Homo sapiens: one gene and its partners. The protein of the gene in region 3 interacts with the protein of the main gene of each other region in a biochemical or structural test. Each region holds a gene or a part of one and is shown on either strand. Other genes may lie near its edges. The genes, in order: SLC16A7, DOCK4 and PDZRN4.

Region 1 (3,657 bases), about 19 Mb from region 3:
AAAAATCTATCAAAAAAGGAGAATTATTCATTCTAGGAAATAATTAACATACTGGTTTAAAATATCTGGGAGAAGAACTTTTACATAAAAAGCTTCAAATTTAGTCAGTTGTAGCAAGCACTTGAAAAGACCCTGCTCTTTCATCTGCAATATCAGGAATTACTATATCTGACTCATATTTGATTAAGTTACAATCTCATTTTTGTTGTCACTACAAAGAAGGATCCTTATATTAGTAAATGCACTCACTGCAACTACTGAGGCCTGCCTCCTGTCAGAATGACAATGCAGTCTTAGCATACGGGTGTCGGTTTGGCTGAATCTAACCAAACACATCACGTACTACAGATGTTTTTAGGGCCCACCCAATTCATAAAAGATTTTACTGCGATACATGAGTTTACCCAAATTTTTATTAAAATGTGTTTTTAGGGTAAATATCTTGATGAACTAGGCAAACAAATACTGAATGCAGATTACTGTTTTTACAGTTTTACCGGGAAAACTCCTAATAGCAACCCCTCTTCCCCTTCACCACAGATCTTTAATTTAGGTGTGATTTTTGTTTGTTCTCTACATGGGAATAAAGGAGAAAGTTTAGAAAGACTGTATCTAGCTAGATAAGATGCAGAGGTAGATGGAATCTCTAACATAAAAGAAGCTCTAATTACACTGTTGCCAGACAGCTGTTATGGATTTTAGTATTGTTTATTAGGTGAAGAAAACATTCATAAAATAAGAAATTTTTGAGATAGAACTTACTCTAATAATTTCATTAACATATGTTCAGGTTCTTAGATCAAGAAATACTGTAGAGGTGTTCTCCTCAAGACTATGCTATGGCAATAATTTCTTGCATACAATTTAATAATTTAAACTTGAACTGTGTGTTCTGTGCTCTGGCGTTCTACTTCAGAAAAAAATGAACACTGCTTCTAAAATAAAAAGGAACATAAAATAAAAAAGGAATTAATGAGATATTGACATGTTTTCTATTAATACAATATTGATGTTTTAAATGATTTTGATATTGCTATAACAACATATATTGTGCAAAATAATTAATCTCACTAAATATTATTTCTGATTTGCCACGAATTATCTGCCGTGGCAATCAGGAAATAGTCTTCAAAGTAAGTTTGCAAACATGATTTTGCAAACCATGATTGGAAAAATATATTCATTTGGGCTATAAACTATCAAGTAGGGTTGTTATATATATTTCTAGGAAAATATTTTATTTACTCTACAAAGATCATCATTATGACCTTACGGCTTCTGTAGTGCAATGGAGAAAAAAGTGTGTTAGAAGTTAAAAGACCTGAATTCTATCTCCAACCCTGCATTTATTCAGAGTATTGGTATAGGTTTAGGCAAAATCCTTAATCCAGTCTAGTTTTATATGGTAAAAATGTGGATACCTATCAAAACTGAGGGTTGAGAGGATGAAATGAATTCATTAAACATATCTTCTGAGACATAAATATATCAAAACAAATCAAAATACAATTAGATCTAATGTTTAGAAATAAATATTTTAATTCATATTTGCTATTTCACTAAATCTAGAAATACTAATGCTTTAGTTAAATATAGAAAGTTGATGATAGAAAAATAAAATCCATCGTACCATTGAAAAGCTTGTCAGAAATATGTACTCTTGAGATTCGGAGGATGAGAAAAAAAATGTGTACTCTAACGAGGAAGCTATATAAACTGAGTCTAACTCAAAACATTTATTTTAGATGCATATAAGAATTAAAGTCTTAGTCAAAAGAATGTTTTAAAATTTCATCCTAAATTTATGTGAGATAAAATGCCATTCTTTTGTTTTTCTGAACAGAGGAGCTTTTATCAACTTATTCTATTTTATTTTTATTTTTATTATTTTATTTTATTTTATTTATTATTATTATACTTTAAGTTTTAGGGTACATGTGCACAATGTGCAGGTTAGTTACATATGTATACATGTGCCATGCTGGTGCGCTGCACCCACTAACTCGTCACCTAGCATTAGGTATATCTCCCAATGCTATCCCTCCCCCCTCCCCCGACCCCACCACAGTCCCCAGAGTGTGATGTTCCCCTTCCTGTGTCCATGTGTTCTCATTGTTCAGTTCCCACCTATGAGTGAGAATATGCGGTGTTTGGTTTTTTGTTCTTGCGATAGTTTACTGAGAATGATGATTTCTAATTTCATCCATGTCCCTACACGAACTTATTCTATTTTAATAGAATGTTCAGTATCAGTGTTTTCACACTGAGATTCTCTAGCTTATTTTGCCATATTTAAATTAAAAAGAAACAAAAAATCCTGTTTGATCATGTGAAAAATATTTACTGAAATGTGAATAAATTTATGATCATTAATTGCCTACTGAAATATTCCTGAATATTGCTCACCTTATTAACAAGTATATATGGAGACTGAAAAACATGTAGATCATGCAAACAAGTGTAACTAACTATACCAAAGAAACAAAAGTCCATACTAAATATGTCCATAATTAAATAAAAAATGCTAAACAAGTTTTACCTAGATATTATAAAAACATAGAAAGGAAAACATTTAGGAGATGATGAAGAAGCAGGAGATTGGGATGGGAGATGTAATTTGATCTAAATTCCCATATGCTTCTGTAAAATCAAAAATTCATTTTGCAATATTAATTTTGCTCTTAAGGTAGAGACTTTTAAAATGACCATTCTCAATACTACAGCAATTCTTCCCTGATTTGCACATAAATGAATTAAAGTGAAGAAAAAGCAGTAGAGGAGAGAAGACTAAAATAAACCAGATTGTAGCACCCTGTAAAGAGCTAAAATCTCCAGTGTACAAACAACTGATAGGAAAGAAGAGAAAATCAGAACTATAAAAAAGTGACATAAGCTCAGAAAATTACTCATTTTTAATTGTATCAACAAAGATAATTTGTAATTTTGATCATGCAAGCATTATAATTACTGATAATTGGGCCTTTCAGCTTTTAAGTGCCTTCTCAAACATGAGTTCTGCATATGGTTGTGCAGAAATCAAAATCTTAAAGAGAGATGAGTAAAGTCAAGTTTGTAATATTAATCTTATATTCTCAATATAGATGCTAATTAGTGCTCTGAATGGTTGTGGTTAGAAATCTTGTTGGTATGATGTATCAGTGATGTCACTGCATTGATGGAGACAGAATAATACATAATGGTGCAATGTGGTGATGGTAAGCTTTGTTACTCAATATTGTCAGGCACTTTAAGAAAATCAGAAACATTCAGGATAGTGCCAAAGAAGATCAGTTTTTCAAGACTCTAAAATCATATTCAATTATATGTGTATGTAATTATAAATATGTGCATCATGGCTGACTTTGAGAAGAATGCAGCGCCTTGCAAGTGCACTATTTGAATAGAGCTAAGGAGAACTATAGTCTAAGGACTGCAAAAGTCTAGATGGAGAAGACAAAAGCAATGACACTTGTTTTCTCTACAGAACAAATAGACAAAGAGGTGAATGACAACAAAGATGTTCAGAGAAACTTGAAAAATAAGCTACGGTGTAGGGTAAGTTGTATTAAATGATGAAAATTAATATGTAACTGTATGGGTAAACCAAATCATTTGTATCTTATAATCTTTTTTTTGGTAGCTACGGATAATATTATA
Region 2 (3,657 bases), on a different chromosome or scaffold from region 3:
CTTTCCTGGCCAACCGGAAGTGTGAGAAATTATACTCTTGTTTTCTAGCTTCCAAAGACAATTTAACTTGGAAGCAGTAACCTCCTCACACTAGGGCCCAAATTGTTAGGCTGAGTGGGCCGATGTTTCAAAACTATTCCTGCGGTTGCATTTCACTCTCAGCAAAAAATCACACTGATGAAGTGTCAAGTCTAACAAAAATACCTTCATTCATTTCGATGTTGGAGACGTCGATCTTAACCTGTCATGGCTGGGAATATCCAAGTAAACAGGATCAAATGCTTATCTGATAACCTATTAACCTTTATATATTACATAGATGGGGGAAGGATATCAACCTGATTTCATGCTTTTTAAACTCACCTCAGGGAACAGTCAGGCATGTGCATGCCCACAGGTGCTTAAGGTATAAGGTAGAAATATGGGAGAACAGCAAGGACCATATTGGACTGGGAGACAGACGATGGGGTACACTCCAAGGCTATTTAAGCAGTTATTTGTCGAACTAAAAGAGAGAAGCTGTGGCCTCTGGCAATTATCAACTATGTTGAGAGGAGGCAGGCACTAGCCAAAGCATAATATTATTCATAACTTTTCAGCACCACCTGAGCCAGTAGAAAAGGAGGAGCAGTTAAAATAGCAGCTCCTATCAAAGAGTAGATCCCAATGACTAAATTGCCTGAGGCCAGGGACCAGGTCTTCACATCATCAGCATAAAGTACAGTGCCTGGCAAGCAGCTGGCACTCAGTAAATCCTAACATAAATGAATGGATGACTTTCAGCAGGTGTGAAGGAAAAGGTTGTTTTCCATTCATATTTCTTTCTTATGAACATTTATAATCATCAGGGAGTACAGTGATGAAGTGGGACTCTTAACAGCCGAAGTGAGATAACCAGACATTTTAGACCAAAGAATATCCAGTGAAACAGAGACAAGAAGGAAAGACTTTATATTTTAGGGCTCAGGAATAGAATTCAGGAGGTTTTTTTCCCTTTTTAATCAAAATAAGTTCTACCCATTTAAAAAGGGTGTGTTAGCAGGGAAGAGACTATCTCAAGAGACACTTCAGTAGTGCTCCATTTCTTCCTACACTCCCTTTTAAATTTTCCTATATCGCCTCTTCTGCTGAGAAAAGCTTGAAAGGAACCACTTCTAAACTAATTACAAGATACAGGGCCTTACCTGTATGCAAGTGCCCCAGCAAAATGACTCTCAATGTAAGTGTCCATTACAGGTTTAAAATGATGAAATTTGCTATCTTGCAGCAAATTTATTATGTGAACCTAAAAAAAGAAAATTGAGCTTTATAAAACTAAATGCAAATCAAGGTTTTCCTTTTTTTTTTGCTTCTTTTTAAAATGAACTCTTACATTATTAAGCACATGTTTCTGAACCAGCCTCATGAAAGTCAAGATTGAGAGACAAAACAGTTAAAATACAATTAAGGGAATTTGAACTTACCAAAGAATCAAACACTTTAGACCCATATTTTTGGGAATTTTCATCTAAAATTCCAAATAAGGTATCCAGTGTATCCTGCAGAAACTGTTAGATAAAGAAGTAGCAAATGAGTAAATAAGATACTATCTGTCTTTTTCCTCCAAATGTTCTTTATTCTATGAATCTCTGCAAGGAAAATAGTAATGAAATACTATATACCTTTACTATCTCTGAGCCATCAATTTCTTTTAATTTAGAGAGACAGCCAGTGATCTTGTCTGGGTGGGTTCTCCATTTCAAAAGATCAAGCATATCACCTTTCAAAATAGAAAAGGAAGATTAATTGCCTTAATAGAGAACAGGTCCTCACATGAAAGCGTTCTGCTAGTAAAAGTAAAATTCTTAACACATGTGGCTCCCCTCTCCTAGCCACTCAAGTTGCAGGCTCCCACAAACTATGACTAGCCCTCTCTAGGATGGCATTTATTTCACTGTATTCTGTTTCCTCTCCACTGCTCTTGACTTACAAACTCCTACCCATCCTTTAGTCCTCAGATCGGATGTTGCTTCATTTTGGAAGCCTTTCCTGAAATCTCGAGCTAACTGTCCCTTCTACATGCTTCCACATCACAGTAGCACTTACAAATCCTTACAAATCAGGCAGGTGACAAATATTTGTTGATTAATTTTTCTGCCTCCTCCTGGAAAGATGAGAGTTTCTTGAGGGCTGGGAACCTGCTTTATTCCCGTTTGGGTGCCCAGCACATAGCACTCTGCCTAGCAACCAACTCCACCCAGGAACAAAGGTCTTCTTGGCAATGTGACCCAAATCTTGCAGACTAAAAGAATGGTAACAGGCCCAGTGATTTCTTAGATCATCCAGGGAGCTCTCAACCTGAGAAGAGCAGCTCCTGGACTCCACAGGCCATCTTTCATCCCAGAGTCCAGATAAGCACAGGGCCCAGCTCTTTAACCCTTTCCTAAACAGACATGAGGGCTTTGGTCCAGCAGGTCCTTAGAGAACCTCTTCACCTGGGGAGGGAATAAATTTATCTTTCTTGGGCAGAAGTTACAAAGGCTGTGGGAGATGGTCTCCATGCATTATTAGTCTCCAACGCATGCAGGGAGAGGTGGCATCTGGAGGCCAATGAATGCAGTGAGAACTGAAGGCTCGCGTGTGCCGAGCACGCGCAGGGCAGCGGGACCTGGTAGAACTGGCCTCAGGGCTCAGTGGAGTTGCCAGACTAGACTGGCCGAGAGAGGAGCCAGGACAGAATTTCCAGGCAGGGAAGCAGGAAATTTACTTCAAATCACTTGTTTTAGCAGAAACCCAAAAGGGACTTTCTGAGAAACAGAAAGATGATGAGGGAACAAAAACTCCAAACCCCCCAAACCAAGGAAGTAGGTAAGATGAGAAAGAAAAAGAGAATATAGAGAACACCAGTGAGAAAAAGCATTAAGAATCTCAAGGAGAAAGAGAAGCAAGCTCCACCAAAGCCAGATTCAAGAGAAAAACCTCACAAAGGATTTACTATTAATAGTAAGGAATTCAGTACCAAACAGGAATGTTTATCTGCAACAAACACGGGTAAGAGGAGGAGGAGGAATTAGAATGAGAAAAATAAAGTGATTTTAAAAATACTGACTTTGAAAAAGAGATTTATGATGTTTTCATAACCAAAAACCCTGAAAATGTTGACTATTCAGATGTAATTCAGACATCCTGGGGTATGACTGAAACCTTTTAAAACTGATTGGTTATATTTGGCATATCAGATATTTCCACAGAGTGAGACTCAGGGCGACAAAGGCAAAGCTCTATTGTTCTCCCCAGTTTGCTGCTTCCCTCCTACCTACTTCCTACTTCCTGCATCTCACTTCAGGAGGCCTCCCCTCCCTGGCATCTTCTCTTTCATAATCCCTCGTGCATTTCCCCTGCCATTCACTCCTCACTTCCCACTCCACCCCCATCCCAGCTCTCACTCCTCCTTTGTGTTCTCTTTCCCTTCCTTTAAAGTGAGGCAGTTGCAGGGGCCATCAGGACCCTGCTCAATGTGAGGAGTGTGGGGAGGAAGGAGGTGGCTATGCTGGCTACCAAGTGGCAGCAGTGGAGAATGAGGACTAGGGCCCATTTAAGTAGGGCTGGAAAACAGATTACAGGGGTCCAGAAAATGAGTCAGGATGAGCCTGCCCATCCTCCCTGCAAGAAGGCTGA
Region 3 (3,657 bases):
CAAAGCCATTTAGTAATTTTTGAAAATAGGGCTTTTTCCCCTCACATGCACAGTTGTTCTTTTTCAAATACATACTTGCAAAGTAAGTATAGGAAAATGTCAACCTTCTGCCACATTCAACCATCCTTAATTTTAAAGTTTTCCTCTTTTCACATGTCAGTTAACTTACAGTACATAAAAACTTATTGTAGGATTTATTTTTCTTTTATATTTTTACCTGGTTAAGTCATTTTATACATTTTTTTCTAGGATGGAGAGCATAAGCCATTCACTATTGTGTTAGAAAGAGAAAATGACACTTTGGGATTCAATATTATAGGAGGTCGACCAAATCAGGTAAAACACCTTGTTAATGCATTACTCGTTACTTATAAAATAAGCATTAATAAGCATTACTCATTGCTTATAAAATAATAGAGGACTTAGCTTTTGTTTGTGGATTTTGAGTAAGAAAAACAAGTGGTTTAATCTTTAAAATTATACTTGTGATCAAATATCAGATTTCTTAATGCAAATATTCCAGTACATACCCAGATTTTATTTATTTATTTATTTATTTATTTATTTATTTATTTATTTTGTTTGTTTGTTTGAGACAGAGTCTTGCTCTGTTGCCCAGGCTAGAGTGCAGTGGCACGATCTCAGCTCACTGCAACCTCTTCCTCCTGGGTTCAAGCAATTCTCCTGCCTCAGCCTCCCAAATAGCTGGGATTACAGGCTCCTGCCACCACACCCGGCTAATTTTTTGTATTTTTAGTAGAGACAGGGTTTCACATGTTGGCCAGGCTCGTTTTGAACTCCTCACCCCAAGTGATCCACCTCACGGTCTCCCAAAGTGCTAGGATTACAGGTGTGAGCCACCATGCCTGGCTCTGATTTTATTATTTTTTAATTTTTAAAAATTATTTTCTTTTTGAGTTGGAGTATCACTCTGCAGCCCAGGCTGGAGTGCAGTAGCGTGATCTCAGCTCAATGCAACCACTGCCTCTGGTTCAATTGATTCTCCTGCCTCAACCACCCAAGTAGCTGGGATTATAGGCGTGTGCCACCACGCCCAGCTAATTTTTGTATTTGTAGCAGAGAAAATACAAAATGTTGGCAAAGCTGGTCTCGAACTCCTAATCTCAAGTGATCCACCTCCCTCACCTCCCAAAGTGCTGGGATTACAGGCTTGAGCCACTGCACCTGGCCTTTATTTTTGAGAAAAACAAAAAACAACAGCTAGCAAACTTGGTTCTCTTTGCTACTTTAAAAGAAGAAAAGGAAAGTACATTTCACATTTTATCTAAATTTTATTGTCCTTTTGGCAAATTTCTTGAATAAACCTATTTCACAATACCATGTGTAGGCAATTTCTATTTGATAATATTAGGCAATTGTATTGCCTGCTTAAACCTATTTATTAAGTGCAATTACTCAGTTTGAAGATGCTAATACAGACTAGGAAGAAAATTATATTGAATGAATGAATGAACAGTTGAAACAAGGGATGATTGATTTCAATAGGAAGTACCATGTTAAAGAAAAACAGTTGATTAGAAATATTTTTGGCTCCCCAAACCGAGTTCTTTGTTTGATTGCATGAATAATATTCTTCATGTTGATGTCAATTGTTTTCAAAATGCATATTTTAAACTTATAGAATATACTGTAGTTGCAAAGTTCTTTTATATCTTTGAATTCCTGTGTCAACTTAATTTTCACCGTAACTGGAAAAAGGTGGTTAAGTTTTAAAAAATGATGTTCTTTAATTTTTCTCAATAAACTGCCATGAAATTTTTGCATCCTGCATTGCAGATGTTGTACAAGGAAACTGTCTTAGTGTTGTTGGCCATATGCTCTGTTTAGGTAAGGATGGCAGTGACATATTTCTTCCTTGTTTTTAGTATTTTGAAAACTTAGCAACTAATGACTGCTGTGCTTCTCTTTTTAAAACAGTCCTCATTTATTAAGATGAAAGCCTTTTCATCATAGCATTTTCGTTATCATTTTCCCTAAGGAATATTTTTATAGATTCTATTTTGGTATTTGACATTTAGATGACATCGGGCCTTTTTAAAAAGTCTCTTAAAATTCATGATAAGGACAGCTAAAGAGAAATAATTTTATTTAACCTGTCATGAAGTCAAATGACATTTAAAATTATATAATGTATTATTATAGGATGTTGGATATTTTCCCCTAAATAAGCTTTGACTTCTTGTGACTGGCTAAAATGTCCTATTTTTACCATATTGGCTATGTTTGAGGTTTAACTAATCATGAGTCAGACTGCACCTGGAAATATGTAACGATGAGTTTGCATGGGTTCCCTTTTGCATAGGTTCCCTTGCAGTTTAGATGTGATCTTTTGGGATTTTACACTTGAGTAAGCTACCAGTGTCTCTTGTGAATAGACACAACTAGAGCTATGTTTCTAAATCTGGCACATCAAAAAGCTAAATTACATTTCTAAACTCTACCACATCTCAAACCAGTTATACAGTGGGAACCAGATATATGTTTTTTTCCTTCTTTAACCTTATCACCCTTTTACTTGCTGTCTCTCTTTAGAAGTGAGATGTTTTATAAATAATACTTAAAAGCCAGTTTATTTCACCTTGTACATGCCCTTTCCCATAGCTTTTTTATGTGAACTCAAAAATGTGAAGTAAATAGATAATCTTGTCAGAGACCCTGGACTCATTCATTAAAACTGCCACCTTGATTAATGACTAGTTGGTGTTAAGTAAGTTAAAATTCTGTTCCAAATCCCCAGCTAAGAGAGTTGCAGGTTTACAGAGGATTGGTAATGTTACATTTGGTAAATTGTCCCTAATAATATTTAAATTTTGCTTACATCTTTCTTCTGCTAATGATTTTTTAAAAATAGAATAATCAGGAAGGAACATCGACTGAAGGAATTTACGTTTCAAAAATTTTAGAAAATGGACCTGCTGACAGAGCAGATGGCCTGGAGATTCATGACAAAATCATGGAGGTAAGACAATGATAAAACATGTATATGATCCATGCAAGAAAGATTGGGATATTTTAAGTTTTCAAATTTACCACTTTACCTTGGTGTGGTGCTTATTAGAATATACATTCTTAGTAGCAGTAAAGGCATTATCATTTTTACTTTCTTACAAAAAATGTAAAAGTCACTGGGAGAGGTGGCTCATGCCTATAATCCCAGCACTTTTGGTGGCTGAGGCAGGAGCATCACGTGAGCTTAGGAGTTCGAGACCTGACTGGGCAACATTGTGAGACTTCATCTCTACCAAAAAACAAAACAAAAAAATTAGCTGGGCATGGTGGCACATACCTATGGTCCCAGCTACTCAGGAGGCTGAGGTGGGTGGATCACTCGATGTTAAACCCAGGAGGTCAAGGCTGTGGTGAGCTGTGTGTAGGCCACTGCTCTCTAGCCTAGGCAACAGAGCAAGACGCTGCCTCCAAAAAGAAGTAAAACTCTATTATGATTCTATATAATTCGTTAGATATTGTGATGAAAGAATAAAATGCCTGAAGTTTTCAAATGTGTTAATGAATACCTCTGTTTTAATAACCTGTGTTTCCCATGAACTATGATGTCACTTGCTTGATTATTAAAGGATTAATTATTATAACATTTCAAAAAAGGATGATAAATCTCTGTTGAGGAACATTTCTGAT

The links.
Region 1: the proteins of PDZRN4 (region 3) and SLC16A7 interact in a test that uses a peptide from one of them, tested with the Homo sapiens proteins (one large-scale study listed by IntAct).
Region 2: the proteins of PDZRN4 (region 3) and DOCK4 interact in a test that uses a peptide from one of them, tested with the Homo sapiens proteins (one large-scale study listed by IntAct).

What each region holds. Positions count from the first base shown.
Region 1 is NC_000012.12:59,784,440-59,788,096, reverse strand, and holds part of SLC16A7 (monocarboxylate transporter 2), read right to left. Parts: 3' UTR 1-3,657. UniProt on the Homo sapiens protein: Proton-coupled monocarboxylate symporter. Catalyzes the rapid transport across the plasma membrane of monocarboxylates such as L-lactate, pyruvate and ketone bodies, acetoacetate, beta-hydroxybutyrate and acetate.
Region 2 is NC_000007.14:111,870,806-111,874,462, forward strand, and holds part of DOCK4 (dedicator of cytokinesis protein 4), read right to left. Parts: intron 1,760-3,657; coding exon 1,662-1,759; intron 1,548-1,661; coding exon 1,464-1,547; intron 1,286-1,463; coding exon 1,185-1,285; intron 1-1,184. UniProt on the Homo sapiens protein: Functions as a guanine nucleotide exchange factor (GEF) that promotes the exchange of GDP to GTP, converting inactive GDP-bound small GTPases into their active GTP-bound form. Involved in regulation of adherens junction between cells.
Region 3 is NC_000012.12:41,191,209-41,194,865, forward strand, and holds part of PDZRN4 (PDZ domain-containing RING finger protein 4), read left to right. Parts: intron 1-249; coding exon 250-336; intron 337-2,872; coding exon 2,873-2,980; intron 2,981-3,657.